3 separate regions of the Homo sapiens genome follow, and regions 1 and 2 are each linked to region 3. Evidence: fine-mapped expression QTL. A gene starts in region 3. Each other region holds a variant in brackets. All regions are shown on one strand. Distances are between the middles of the regions. Region 1 overlaps RNF150 (ring finger protein 150). Region 2 overlaps RNF150 (ring finger protein 150). Region 3 holds the start of RNF150 (ring finger protein 150).

The links. PIP is the estimated chance that this variant, and not a neighbour inherited with it, causes the effect.
Region 1: its variant is the best candidate, but not a certain one, in a credible set for the expression of RNF150 in lung (GTEx, PIP 0.85).
Region 2: its variant is the best candidate, but not a certain one, in a credible set for the expression of RNF150 in fibroblasts (GTEx, PIP 0.55).

What each region holds. Positions count from the first base shown.
Region 1 is chr4:141,061,913-141,066,912 of GRCh38, reverse strand. All of the region lies in intron 1 of RNF150 (ring finger protein 150), which reads left to right. Among named protein-coding and RNA genes, the nearest start is that of RNF150, 69 kb to the left of the region's middle. The variant A/GTTA (reference allele first, on the strand shown) is at 2,304.
Region 2 is chr4:140,948,355-140,953,354 of GRCh38, reverse strand. It overlaps RNF150 (ring finger protein 150), which reads left to right. Exons shown (of 7, transcript NM_020724.2): 3 at 3,983-4,054. Among named protein-coding and RNA genes, the nearest start is that of RNF150, 180 kb to the left of the region's middle. The variant G/A (reference allele first, on the strand shown) is at 2,317.
Region 3 is chr4:141,131,217-141,136,216 of GRCh38, reverse strand. It overlaps RNF150 (ring finger protein 150), which reads left to right and starts at 2,748. Exons shown (of 7, transcript NM_020724.2): 1 at 2,748-3,892. The coding sequence starts at 3,409. RefSeq lists a silencer at 2,810-2,929.

The DNA.
Region 1 (5,000 bases), 69 kb after region 3:
ACCATCTAGGTTTGTATAAGTACATTTTATGATGTTTGCACAACAACAAAGTCAACTAATGACACATTTCTCAAAATATAGCCCTGTTAAGTGACGCATGACTGTAATTAATCTGAAGTTATTTAAAAACATACATGGTATATTTTCAGTACATATTACTAATAATTCAGACTTTATATTAATTTACGTCAGTAGTCAACCAAACAGGCTACATTATTTGTTTTGTGCTTTTGTGTATCTTTAGTGTTTGGGGAAAATATGCTTTGCAAAAAAATTTGTAGAAATATCGTCAGCTTATTTCATAGCAGAATGCTTACTAAGGTACTATAGCTCTTTGCTTAGAAAATTGTAGAACATGTATATTATTGATATACATAACTCATTTAATATCAAGACAGATTTGTATTTGTGTTTAAAAGTTATTAGAAGTGTAAACTCACTGAAAAATTATATAAGGTGGCATCATCATTTTTTAAGATTAGGCTTCAGTGTCTAATTTCTGTTTGCTTATTTGTTCACAGTACAATGATCTCTTTTGACACCATCCCTGTTGAAACATTGCTACCCTTGCAAAAAATGAGCTAATCTTACAGATGATGGAGATATATGCTTCTCATATTTAAAGTATAATTGATAGTGTGAAAATTACTGAGGAATGGTTTTTTTTTTTTCGCACATATACTGAACAAATGATAGCTTTTAACAATTGCACCCTGTTCTAATGTTCTTGCATCCAGAGGGGAAGGGTCATAAGGAAAAAGAATTTAACAGTGGGAGGAGGAAGTTTTTGCTGATTCATCCCTCTCCAAATGGAACACACTGGGATCAGATGAGTCAAATAGTGTTGAGGGCGAAGGGTTAGAAGACAAGTAGAATGAAAGGTCCGGGGATGTGAACCACCCATGCACAGAGAATGCCTGCAGTGTGTTACCTCAACAGGAGCAGCTTCAGGAAAGAAGCCTTTTCTGATTTTACTGCATAAAGAGAGAGGATTCCAGCTGATTTCAACATCAAAATAGAGATAGATATGCTGATTCCACATCATCTCTATTTGGGGGATCATATGAACCTTCCATGAGTGTGTGGGTAGACAGAGGTCATCCAAGCGGAGGGAGTCGGCATTTAGTAGACCGAGAAAGGTGAATGTTAATATCATACCCCACTGGTCTTGAGGACATCAAGGTCAGTTTTTCCTCATGACCAGAAATATTTATTATTATTAAGGACTGGACTCAGTAACTTAAAAATTACGATGAATTTCAATGAATTTCTTCCTAGCACATATACAGCTCATCTTACTACCTTCTAAAATTCGCCTTTCTTAGGTTTACAGAGACTACGCAATGTAAAAAAAAAATTACAAATAAATAAAATTTGCCTTTCATTAGGAGCTACCTCTTAAGTTAACTAAGCAGTTACCCCTGGTATAGAACACTTGAAATATATTACAAATAGGAGGATTTTTTTCCCTATATTTTGTAAACTCTTTCTAATAGTTTCATATAAATTTTTTAGTAGAGTCAGAAACATTCAGAAATCAATAATCTCAGAAAATTCCTTCATATTGTACATTTCTCTCTGTCACTTTTCTTCCCTATCCCTGCCTCTCACGCACAGATAGCATGTTTGTGGCCAAATCTTAGATAGTAACCCAGGACGTAAGGGTTAATTGCTGATTGTAGACAAGCAAGCTGATCTGGAGACATCAAGCCCTATGGCATGCTTAGAACTTATTTAAGAATTGTCAGGGCCAGGTGTGGTGGCTCATGTCTGTAATCCCAGCACTTTGGGAGGCCGAGGTGGGCAGATCACCTGAGGTCAGGAGATCAAGATCAGCCTGACCAACATGGAGAAACCCCATCTCTACTAAAAATACAAAATTAGCCAGGCGTAGTAGCACATGCCTGTGATCCCAGCTACTTGGGAGGCTGAGGCAGGAGAATCGCTTGAACCTAGGAGGCAGAGGTTGCAGTGAGCGGAGATCGTGCCATTGCACTCCAGCCTGGGTAACAAGAGTGAAACTCCGTCTCAAAAACAAACAAACAAACAAAAATTGTCAGGCTGTTCAGTGTGTAGCTTATAAAGCTACATCGTAGTGTCAAACCCTCTGCCTTGCCTTTAATTCAACAAATAGCGCTTGAAGGGGTACTACCTCTCCCTTCAGTGATACCTACTCCCCTCCCTTTTCTGCCCATCACCAAGTTACCATTTTGTTTTTGTCTTTTATTTTGCTGTGGTTTTTAATATGAGTACAGTGTAAACATAATTATCTTTATATTTTTTAATTTTTTGTTGTTGTTGTT[A/GTTA]GAGATGGTGCTGTGCTGTCCAGGCTGGAGTGCAGTGGCTGTTTACAGGTGTGATCATAGAGCATTACAACCTCAAACTTCTAAGCTCAAGTGATCCTCCTGCCTCAGCTTCCCAAGTAGCTGGAACTACAGGAATGCACAACTATGCCTGGTGATTAGCTTTATTGTAATGGAGAAAAGCCAAGCGGTGTTCAAGGCATTCTAGACAAAACCATTGACCTCATAATATTTACAAACTATAGGCCAAAGCGGAAACATACACAGACAATAATGGTTAAGATTTTCCAAGCGCCTGTCATATACCAGGCAGAGTAGTGTACGTTTTCTTACGGAGTCCACGACGTTCAGATCTCACCTTTGCCATTTACTAGCTTTGTGGCCTTGGTTTTGTCAGATGTAAAATGGGAAAATTAGTAGCACTTAATTCATAAGGTTGTTGCAAGCACTGTATTAGTTAAGCAAATGTTTAATATATGTTTTATAATTATTAAGTAGAACTTTTAAAGTAAAAAGGAAAAATAAAGAAATGTTGAAAGGCTTTGGTTTAACTAGGAGGCCGTTTTTTAACTTTCATTAAATCTGTTTATGAAGCCATCAGTCCTTTTTTTTTTTTTTTTTGTAGAACTTTTTGTCGTTGATTCATTACAAAATGGTTCTTATAGTTTAATAAGCAGGAGAGGCTAAGGCCAAAACCTTTGGCTAGAATAAAGGGTCTGACTACTGGTTATATAACTTTTGTAATTATAAACCCTACAACTGTCACCAACACACACATAACCTGCATACAAATGCACAGACACACACACATACGGGCACACACATGAAACTGTGAGAATCTGTAAAATCTGCAAAGGATTTTTGTATCCCGAGAGTCTAGCATAATAATTTGTGCGTAGTATGTTCTAAATAATTAGTTGGTTCCTACTGATAGACCCAGTTTTGTCTGGTCCTTCTTGAAAAGCTATAATAAAACAACGTCCACCCCCATCCAGCCCTTTCCCAGGTGGCTACTGGAAATGTAAGGTGGCACAATGTTTCAGAAAAACAATTTGCTTATTTTTATCAAGAATCTTTTTTAAAGGTCCATATAATTTGTCCTACTAATTTAACTTCTGAGACTGTATCATAAGGAAATAGTAGCTTTACCATAAAGATATTTATGTCTGTATCTGCTTATTCAAAAAGAAAAATTTTGGCATAACCTAAATGGCTGTAAGAACAGAAAGGAAGATAATTAAGTAAACCTTGGATGCTTCACTAAATTTGGAAATCCATGTCCTTTTGGAAGGGAATTCCTTCAACTTTGAAATTTTGTTTATTTATATCATTGAGATAACATCTGCTTAATTCAGATCCTTCTGTGAGAAGGTAAGATATGCTATAAATAAAAAAGTTGCTAAACGCATTTCATATTTATAGTATAAGTTCATAAATTGTTAAAATTGTCTTTAAAAAGATTCTTTAAACAACAAATATTATGTCATCTGAAAAAGGAATACAAAATCGTCTACAAAGTAGAATCTCATCTATCTAAACAATGCATAGGAACAAGATCAACTGGCTAGATGTCATGTTGTTCAAAGATGCTGCTCAGCCATAAAAAAGAATAAAATCATGTCCTTTGCATCAACATGGATGCCATCATCCTAAGCAAATTTACACAGGAACAGAAAACCGAATACCACACATTCTCACTTATAAGTGGGAGCTAAGCACTGGGTGCACATGACCATGAGGATGGGAACAGTGGACACTGGGGCCTACTAGAGGGCGGAGAAAGGGAGGGGGACAAGGGCTGGAGGACTGCCTGTTGGGTACGGTGCTCATTGCCTGGGTGACAGGATCATTCATACCCCAAATCTCAGCATAATACAATATACCTATGTGACAAACCTGCACATGTATTACCAGAATCTAAAATGCACGTTGAAATTATAAAATTAAGAATATAAGATAATGTGATAAACAACAATAAGAAAAGAACAAATCCCTGCCTAGGAATCTTATGCAGAAGCTCTTGATAAGGATATTTTCATATTCTGCAAGCTTAAAGCGTTCAGAGAACACTATTGTGTATTAAACTATCTTGTATATGTAAAGGAAAAAAAAACAAAGGTGCTGCCTCTAAGTGGTAAGATTATGAGTGATATTTTTTCCTTCTAGATGCTTTATATGCATGTAGACCTTTCAGACTTGCTACTGTATGTGCGTGTGTGTGTGTAGACATACATATATATACACATACATATATATACATATACATACCTATATATGAGAGATATATATAAGATGCATGTTTATCTTTATATCATGTATAATACAGACATGTATAATACAGACATAAAACAAAGAGAATTTTACGCAAAGACTCAGAAGGAAGAGTAATAATTTCATGCATTGAAGAAACAGATTTGAATATAGTGTTTCTTCCACATCTTATGTTACCTGAGCATAATGGATATAATTTCCTTGTTTTAGTTTTAATAAGGTTATTTCTCTGCTGTAGTATGAAAGTGTGTCTCCTAAGTCTTCAAACTGTATGAAATCAAAAGATAACTCAGTTACAAGTTGTTTGGGAAAAGTATTTAGTGTACTTAAAACATTTCTACTTTAATTTTTGTGTCTCATAATTATCAGATTTATTCTCTTTCCTGAAATATTTTAATGGATTTTAAAATCGATGTACTTTTGGGAGGC
Region 2 (5,000 bases), 180 kb after region 3:
CATTTATCAATAACATGCAGAATGAGGCTTGACTCAACGAATGTCACAGGAAAGGGAATGGAAGAGAATACCATTATACCATTTTTTAGAATGATTAAGGAAAATACGTCTTCCTACCTTTGTGAATCATTTGATTTCTCAGAGCTTCTAGGAGGAAGGCCTCATAGACTTGATGTTGAAGATGACTTTATTACAGTCATGCACTGCATAACTACGTTTTGGTCAAAAATGGACCACACATATGCAGTAGTCCAATAAGATTATAATATCCTGTTTTTACTGTATCTGTTCTATGTTTAGATACACAGATCCTTACCATTGTGTTACAGCTGCCTACAGTATTCAGTACATGCTGTACAGGTTTCTAGCCTAGGAGCAATAGGCTATACCATAGAGCCTATGTGTATAGTTGGCAGTATCATCTAGAATTGTGTGAGTAATCTTCCATGATTTCACACAGTGACGAAATCGCCTAACAATGGATTTCTCAGAATGTATCCCTGTCATTAAGCCATACGTGACTGTACTTTCTCTTTTACTCTCTTTCCCTCAATCTATTAATTCTGCTAATTTGGGAAGCCCATCTCCTAAATGACTTAATCCTCTGCTGAACTTCTTTAACCTCTCTAGGGCCCAGTCATACAAATGCCAGTAATGGAATTCGTCTTTCTAATTCCCTAGCCATTAACTTTACTGTTAGCCAAAATCCCTGTCACCTTAACGTCAGTTTGCTTTACATTTCCTCAACGGACCTGCCATTTTTAAAAAATAAAGGCAGCCTTCATTATTTTAAAAGGGCGTGGAAAGCGTTTTTTCTCTAGAAGAGACTGAGCGGATGTTTTCAAAAGCCATCTATTTTTATTCAGATGTAGCCAACAGTTAAGTTAAATACACAGCCAAAGTTTAATGCAGTCTTTGAACTTCCCCTACATGCCCACATTTAAGAAGGGCATATTTCATTTGCTAAAAAATTATTTTAAAAGAAATTGAATTTTGAAAACATTATTTCTAGTTCACCTGCTTTTTAAAAATGTTGGCTCCCTGGTCGGGCGCTGTGGCTCATGCCTGTAATCCCAGCACTTTGGGAGGATGAGGTGGGCAGATCATGAGGTCAGGAGCTGAAGACCAGCCTGGCCAACGTAGTGAAACCCATCTCTACTAAAAATACAAAAAAAAATCAGCCAGGCGTGGTGGCGGGCACCTGTAATCCCAGCTACTTGGGAGGCTGAGGCAAGGGGAATCACTTGAACCTGGGAGGCAGAGGTTGCAGTGAGCCGAGATCGCACCACTGCACTCCAGCCTGGGTAGACAGTACGAGACTCCATCTCAAAAGAAAAAAAAAATTATTTCCCTTTGAGTATAATCTATGACCATTGTATGAACATATATTTTTCTACTTAATTACTCTGGTTAGTCTTCAAAAAAAATTTTTTTAAGTGATTGAATTAGGTGCAATATTATATAATGCCAGTTAAACACAATTGCAAAAATATCTGAGTTCTTGACTGAAAAAGAAAAACAGTATTTGTTTGTTTGGGATTCAGATTCTTATTCTAAATACAATATTCTACAGGTCTGTGGCATTTACTCCCAATAACTAGTAGCCCTTTCTCAATACCTTTCAGTCCTTGCCCCGGGGTCCTTCAATGGAGAGCAGCTGTCAGTTGATACTGGCTGGGTTTGCCAAGCCAGGACCACAAGATTGCTTACCTTACAATATGTATCACTTATAGTTTGTCCCTAAATATTCCCGTTAACTGGCTAAATTTCTCAGGTTGTTTTCCTTGCAAAAAAAAAAAAAAACAACAACAACAACAAAAAACCACTCTTGGCTTAAGATTTTATTAACTCATTATTTAGAGTTTTCACTAGATTATAAATTAAACTACAGTTGATAGGAGTGTGTGTGTGTACGTGTGTGTATGCGCACACATGTGTTTTCATTACCATTTTTTTAAACCCAAAGCTATACTTGGCACAGAATAAGAGATCAAAATATGTATGTTGAATGATTGACTGCCTATTATTGAAGGCAGCTTTATTAATATATGCTGGGGATATAGGGAACAATGTGAAGCAAAAACTAAGCATAGGCCTGCCCTCAGGGAGCATATCTGAGGGCAATCTAACAGGAATTGATCATAAAAACAAATTTCAAATGTCAAACGTGACAGTGCAAAGGTACAAAGTGCTATCAGGGTCTAGATGAGAGGGATCTTGTTGGATACATCTAGGAAGGGCTCCTTGAAGAAATGATTTCAGCTGAAGTCAAAGGATGAATAGATAATAACCAGAAGAAGAGGAGAGGAAAGTTCC[G/A]TCATGTTTAGTTCACCTCAGTTCAGTTCTTTTTCTCTCGCTCTCCTGTTTTTCCTGGTATTTATCACTAAAGACTCTTCCTATTTTTGCCTGCTGCCTTAGTTTGCTAGCTACTCATGGACTTCTGCATAAATCTCAAGGGCATAGGTCTCCTTTTAGGAAACAGCCAAAACTTATCCTTCTAATTAAAATGTCAACATTATTTTAGATACGCAGGACAAACTATCAAAGAGAAAAATGAATTAACAAGGAAAACATCTCCTTTTCTGCTAATGACTTTAACTGCTGTGTACTTAGAGAAGTGCCACGTGGTAAATACTTAGTGATTCTGATTGGCTGGATGGTTGGTTGACTGGTTAGCTGGCTAGCCAGACGTTGGATGGATGGCTGACTGGCTGGCCAGGTGTTAGATGGTTGGCTGACTGGCTGATTGGTTGACCGGGTGGCTTGGCAAATAAAGGTGAGGGTGGTAGATGAGCTTTGATTTTAAAGTCAAACTTAATTTTATTCAGATTCTGACTTACCTTTCACTAACTCTATGATATTGGACAACTTACTTAAGCTCTGTAAGCCTCAGTTCATTCTATTAAATAGTGCTTTTCTCAGTTATTATAATATCAAAGGTGATAATGCATATATAGCTTTAGCATGGCACCTAGGATATATTAACTGTTCACTAATATGTGTTCACTATTTTAAAGAAAAGCAAGAAGCTTGAGTGCTTTTTCCAAAAGGAACAAAATTAGTGAAAGCAAATGATTAGTCTGTGTTTAAATGTTAACTCTCTTAATCTTAGTCCTTCTGTTTTACTACAACAGATACACATCTATTGCAGACCAGAAATAGATATACCTAAGAAGAAGATAAAACATGTAGAAAACTCACATGCAATTTTTTTGCTTGACAGATTAAAATTTAATTTACTCACCACCCTATCCTTCTCCCAGTTTTCCTCATCACCCTCTGATTGCATTATTGCAGGGCTCATTATGATGGTAATTTTCTCTACCAAAAATGGGGAGAGAATGATATATTATTTCTTGACATGGATCATGGTGGTTACTTATTTGCTAAACTGAACATTATGTTTTATGTATTTTTCTATATGCACACTCACACTTAAACATGCATAAAGGAGGTAAAATTGCCACATGAGAATGTGATGGAATAGGACAGAACAGACCAAATTTAAACCAACGTTATGCCTATATGAGCAGATTGGAAGGAATATCCAAGCAATGAATCCTGATTGTCAAAAAGAGGAGATGACACTTACTCCAGCTACTCCAGATTGGCTATCTCTGTGTCACAAATTGAGTGGCTAGAGTGGCAAATTACTAAACTCATTTTTTTTTGGGGGGGGGTAGTGTATGCACATATAACCTGCACTGTAGAACTGTAGGGCAGGATCTATGTATGTCACATGCACTTGCTTAACTCTAGGCATGAAGAACTTCTCTCTATGGCAGAAGTCTTTTATAGACCTCAACTGGTAGAGCCCCCTTGCACAAATGCCACTGCCCTGTCTTTTCTAGTCGTCATTGCTAGCATTCATACCACATGTGCATGATTTCAGAGCTAGCTGCCCTGGTGTATTAAATGATATCAGAAATGAAGTCAAGAATTACAGATCTTTATTATTAACAAGCACGTTTTGGCTTTTCAGCGCCGACTGGGGGATGCAGCAAAGAAAGCCATCAGCAAACTCCAGATCAGGACCATCAAGAAGGGTGACAAGGTAATAGCAGCCTCTTTTCTTTTTGGTGAGGAGCTATTCAAAGAAGCTTCTAACTTTTCTTATAGCCAGGGTGGAAGAGAGGAAAGGATGGGAAAGGGAAATATATGCTAACAGTTGTCCTATCAGTATCTGTTATTATACTCTTCTTAATTAAACATGAAGTTTGTTATAAAATGCGTATGCTATGATAATAAAATAGTTGTATAGAAAATATGACAAACTGATAAGTGTATAAAAAATAGATGAAGCCAGAATGAAATTAGTACACAAATGGATTACCTAAAATTTGTACTAGAAATGGGTCTCAAATTTAAGTTGGGGCTTTCTAGCAGCCAGTGCAAAGGAAACAATATTCAGGTAATATTTAATGAATTTATTCCAGTGTCCCATGAGATAAAATCAAAATGGTTGTTCCTGATGTTATGACCTGAGAAAGTTTTTTCATGAATCTTTGCAAGCAAGACAGCTTTATGTGCTGAGCTATGTTCTCCACTTGTCTACAGTATAAATGCAGGAAGTATATTCAACCCCTCTGAAATCCAGTATTCAGAACCCCAAGGTTGATAGGTGGTGTGGCTCATGCCTGTAATCCCAGCACTTTGGGAGGCCAAGGTAGGTAGATCACTTGAGGCCAGGGAGTTCAAGACCAGCCTGGGCAATGTAGAAAGACCCTGTCTCTATAAAATTTTTTTTTAAAATCAAAACACAGAGCCCCGAATTCATTTCAGTAGTCTCCTTCACTGTAGAATGATGTCATAAAGCCAAAAGCAATAGTATGTCTTGAGGAGGGAAAACAAAGCAGTCCTGCCCAGGTTTATGGGCTTCTAAGGGTCTTCCTTATTCCCTAGGCCAAGTTAGAGCATTGGATTACAATACATGGGTTTGGAACTCCTTGGGGCAATGTAAGGGATTTACAACTCCATATATAAGCAGGTATTGTCTCTAA
Region 3 (5,000 bases):
ATATACCATCCAATCTACCAATTTCACTGAATTTTTGCCAAGTGTTTATTTTTCCTTTCTGGTCTAGGAGCCAATCTGGGATATTTATTGTACGTAATTGTCACATCTCTTAAATCTCTTCAATTTGGATCAGTTCTTCTGTTTTTCTCTGTCTCTCATAAGTTTAAGAGTTTTAAAGAATATAAACTTTTCATTTTGAAGGTTGCCTCTCATCCTGGGTTTATCCATTGTTTCCTTATGTCTAGACCATGCCGTGTATTGTTCTTTTCAGGAACATGACAGAAATGACACTGTAATTCCAGTGCATTTCATAAGGAGGTACATGATAGGACTCATTCTACAAATGGTGATGTTCACCATGATCACCTGCTCAACTTGGTGTCTTCCAGGTTCCTCTTCAATAAATTCACCATTTATTGAATTAATAAGTATTTTTCAGAAGATACTTCAAGACTAGGCTAATATCCTGCTTCACATCAAACACCTACTCATCAGCCTTAGTATCCATTGATGACTCCTGCCTAAATCAAACAACACTCTTGTCAAATGGTGACTTTCTATATCCATTAATCCTTATCAGTAGGTATTTCTACCATAAGGAAGAGCTGTTCCTCCCTATTTATTTACTCCATCATTTTTCTGTATTAACATTAGCACGGATTCATGCCTTATTAGATAGGTTGTAATCAGTTACTAGGATCATTTATTTTATGTTCAGACTGTCCCAGATTTGGCCAGTGGGAGCCCTTTCCAGCTGGCTCTTCTGTCTTTTTGACATACTCCCATCATGCTTGGAGCATTTCCTTTCAAGAGGTTATGGGCTCACTCTGTACTTTCCCAGTGTCAGCCCTATAATCAGCCAGCTTGCTTTTCGTGGAGGATGCTATTTAGAAACGAAGATCTTCTGGCCACTGGATGTGCCTTTTGCTTTTGGCCTCTGAATGGAGAGAGCTATGGTATATATGTGTGCACACACATAAATATATATACATATAGTTTTTGAAAAATTATTTCATACTCATTGTTAATCCACCCTAAAGCCTCAAGGTTATTTACAGCTCTCTTTCTTTCCATATTTGTAAATTCCTTCTCCAACAGTAAGAAACCTCGCTCCTATTTTACTCAGTGTTTTACTTATTAGCCCAATGGCCCTGTAATTAAGCAATCTTCCAGCCATGCTATTTCCTTGACCCTGTCATCTCTTTAGCACCTAACTTTTCCAAAGGAAAGAAGGGGTAAGGGATAGTCACACATTCTTAATAACATAGCTTCTCCAAGTCTTCCAGCTGGAGAAAAAAAATGCTAAGCGATAAAGAAGACTGGGGAAACACTGTGGGTTGCTAAAGGCAACTGCTCAGAACCTAGCCGGGGGTTTCTAGCAGTGGACTCCTCCCTCAGATCTCTGGTGGTTCAGGAACCAGCAGCCAGGTGTCTCCACTTTTGCCTCCTTGGCAGTAAGCGCTATAAAAAGCACTGTCCCAATTGCCTAGAAGCCTATTTTCTAAAATGAATAAGCTAGGAACACATACAAATTCAGCACATCAAATGCCATAGAGACAAATTCTTCTAAGTAGTTCTTCTTGTGCCTGCTTCTAATTTGGGTACAGCTGAGGCTCTTTGCCCTCCCTTAACAGCCATCAGCTGTTTGTACTGCTGCCGGAAAAAGAGAAGTTGTACTGGTGGACGTTCATTAACGAAGAGCTGTAAACATGCTAAAGTCCTGGGGAAAAGGCAGCCTTTCATTTTTTAAATTTAAATCATGAATGGGTCCTGGGTTCTCTGAAAGAGCATCAGGTGGGAAACACAATGTAAATGATAGAGAACCATCAAACAAATATTTTTAGAGACTATATGGCAGGCATCTCAAGCCAAGGGAAAGGATATCCACCACCAAAACGTCTAATTGGTAAGGCACTCTGCTGTACTACAGTTTTAAGAACACTACACTAGGGGGACTGTACTGTCTGCTGACTACTGTAATCTCTATGCACAGTTGGAGAGCGCACTATAAACAATAACCCAAACAAACCTCCCTTGCCTGTTGGTGCTGCGAGTCCCCTGTTCCCAGCCATGACAATCAGAATAAACACAGTCCAGAAATGTCTCACCCGGTTTCTCTTCTTACAGAGTGACAAAACACCTATTCTATAAGAAAACGAATGTTAGATGTTTGCTTCCAGGTGGGCAGTAGGAAGCCCATTGTTATACCCATCTTAACAGAATGGTTGTTAGACCAGCAGCATCAGCACCACCTGGGAACTTGTTAGAAATGCATATTTTTGGGGCCCTACCACAGATCTACTGAACCAGAAACTTTGTGGCAGGACCCATCGGTCTGAGTTTTAAAACTAAAGATTTGATAGCCACTGCCCTAGGTATTCCAGAGGTAGCTTTGGAAGGACCTCAATACCAAACCACCTTACACTTTGGCCTTAGGACAGGTAATCAGGGAGCTCACGGCAGTACTTCCAGCAAACGGGAGGGTCGTTTACGAGAGGCACATACATTTGCTAAATGTAACGCTCAGGAAGTTATTCCCGTACTCAAAGGTCGAGGGGTCGCTTCCTCTTTACCTCCACCTAGATTAAGTCGCCGATTGAGGTTGAATTTGAGACCCGACAGGGGTCGCTGCTGCCCATAAAGAGAGACCAAGGGAACATGGCAAGAGAATCCCAGGGGCTTTGACATCACACTAAGCTCCTCCTTGCACGCACACATTATACACACACACACACACACACACAAACATACAGACACACACACACGGACCGCTTACTCCGCTCTGCCTGCTCGCTCCCACTGTCCCCAAGCCCGCCCCGCCCGCGGCAAGTGCGTGCCCAGGCGCAGCCACCGGCGAGATCAGGAGCGCAGCGCCCGCAGCCTGAGGGAACCGGCGCAGGGCAGCAGCGGCTGCAGCTGGATTCGCGCGCCCCAGCGCTCAGTGGCGGCGGCCGGGACACCCTGGGCAGCACCCCGCACCGCAGCACCCCAGACTACGAGCAATCGTGCCCGTCCCCGCCGGGGCTGGAGGGCGCAGGGCCGCCACCCTGCAAGTTCGTGGGCCCCCGGCCACCCTTATGAGAGAAGGCGAAGCCGGGCGAAGGAGCAGGACGCTCGGCAGCAGGACTCCTCCGCAAGCCCCGCGGGCCCTCTGTTCCCGCGCCCCCCGGGCGCCCAAGAAGCAAAATGCAACCACCGCGCTACAGCTGAGAGGGGAAGGGGCCAGCGCCATCCGCTCGCCCGGAATCCGGTCCCCGCGGCGGCTGCGCGTCCCGGCCGCGGCCCCTCCGGCCCGGGAGTGAGCAGCAGCAGGAGGAGAGGCAGCGGCCCGGGGTTGGCCGGGGCTGGGGAGGAGGGACGGGACGGAGGGAGGGCGCGGGGGCGGGGAGGGGGCCCCGGCGGATAAAGATGGCAATGTCTCTCATCCAAGCGTGCTGCAGTCTGGCTCTCTCAACATGGCTGCTTTCCTTTTGTTTCGTGCATCTGCTCTGCCTGGACTTTACCGTGGCCGAGAAGGAGGAATGGTACACCGCCTTCGTGAACATCACCTACGCCGAGCCCGCGCCGGACCCCGGGGCCGGGGCGGCGGGCGGCGGCGGCGCGGAGCTGCACACGGAGAAGACGGAGTGCGGGCGCTACGGAGAGCACTCGCCCAAGCAGGACGCCCGCGGGGAGGTGGTCATGGCCAGCTCGGCCCACGACCGCCTGGCCTGCGACCCCAACACCAAGTTCGCCGCCCCGACCCGCGGCAAGAACTGGATAGCCCTCATCCCCAAGGGCAACTGCACGTACAGGGATAAGATCCGGAACGCGTTCCTGCAGAACGCCTCAGCCGTGGTCATCTTCAACGTGGGCTCCAACACCAACGAGACCATCACCATGCCCCACGCGGGTGAGTGGCCCAGCGGGCGCGGGGGAGGGGAGCCGGCGGGGACGGAGGTGCCTAGAGGGATCCAGCGCCTGCCTCCAGGCTCCTTCTGGGAAGTCCGTGCGGCGCGGAAGACGTGTCTGGGTTCCCTGGACCGATTAAGTTTTGCTCCGCGTCACTTGGGGGGTTTACAAAGAGGAGAAGATTAACTGTATTGGGTAGGGGAGAGGCTGCCGGAGAGCTTGGCATAGCGCCGCTTGGACAGGGGTTCAACGTGGCGGGCTAACTTTTCCGAGGGGGACCTGGAAGGTGGGGTTTGGAGGGTAGGGCTCAGATACTGTTCTTGGTTAGTGACCGGCCCAGCACCTGTTTGGAACCAGTAGATCTGATACCACAGCACTGCCCTTGGGTCTGTGCATCAGGTATACCCTGATGCAGGCGCTATATCAGGAGAGGGGTAGGGTTACCTGCTGGCAGCTCACCACCGCGAACTTGCACTTGGGAGAGTTTCCCCTTTTGGGTTTACGCACTTCATTAATCATATTAAAAGTACTATGCTCTGCCAGGCTGTCATCCAGAGAAACTGACAGGTGGCCACGATGGTAAATAATAACAATCCTCAACAAGCCAAGAAGAGTGTGATGGCCCTAAAGTTATAACTACTTTTCTAATTATTGCATTATCCTTTGCCTGATTGGGAGGTTAAATATGCTGAAGGTTTTCTTTCTGGCTAGAATGAAGGGATTTCAGACTAGAGAGAATAAGCTTTTGTTAATGATCGCAGGTACCAGGACTAGAAATGCATTACTGTCCCAAAACTCAATACCGCATATGCCTGACATAAGCAATGTTTCCCTGGTGGTAGGAACACCCTCCCCCCAAAAAAGCCATCCCCAGGCTTGTTAACATAAGTCCATAAGCCACTAGTTTTAGCAAGCTAGCCTCCTTATGTCAGAGCTTGCTGCTTGTATTTGTGTGCCTGAGAAGTGGGCCCTCCTTCCCCAAAGGGGTTTCTGGGCCGAGACTGTGGCATCCAGTGCCCGGAAGGAGGGGAGAAAATGACAGATGCATTTTCTGAGTGGAGTCTCCTAATCAAAAGCATTATTTTCTTTAAAAACCAAATTTGAATAAA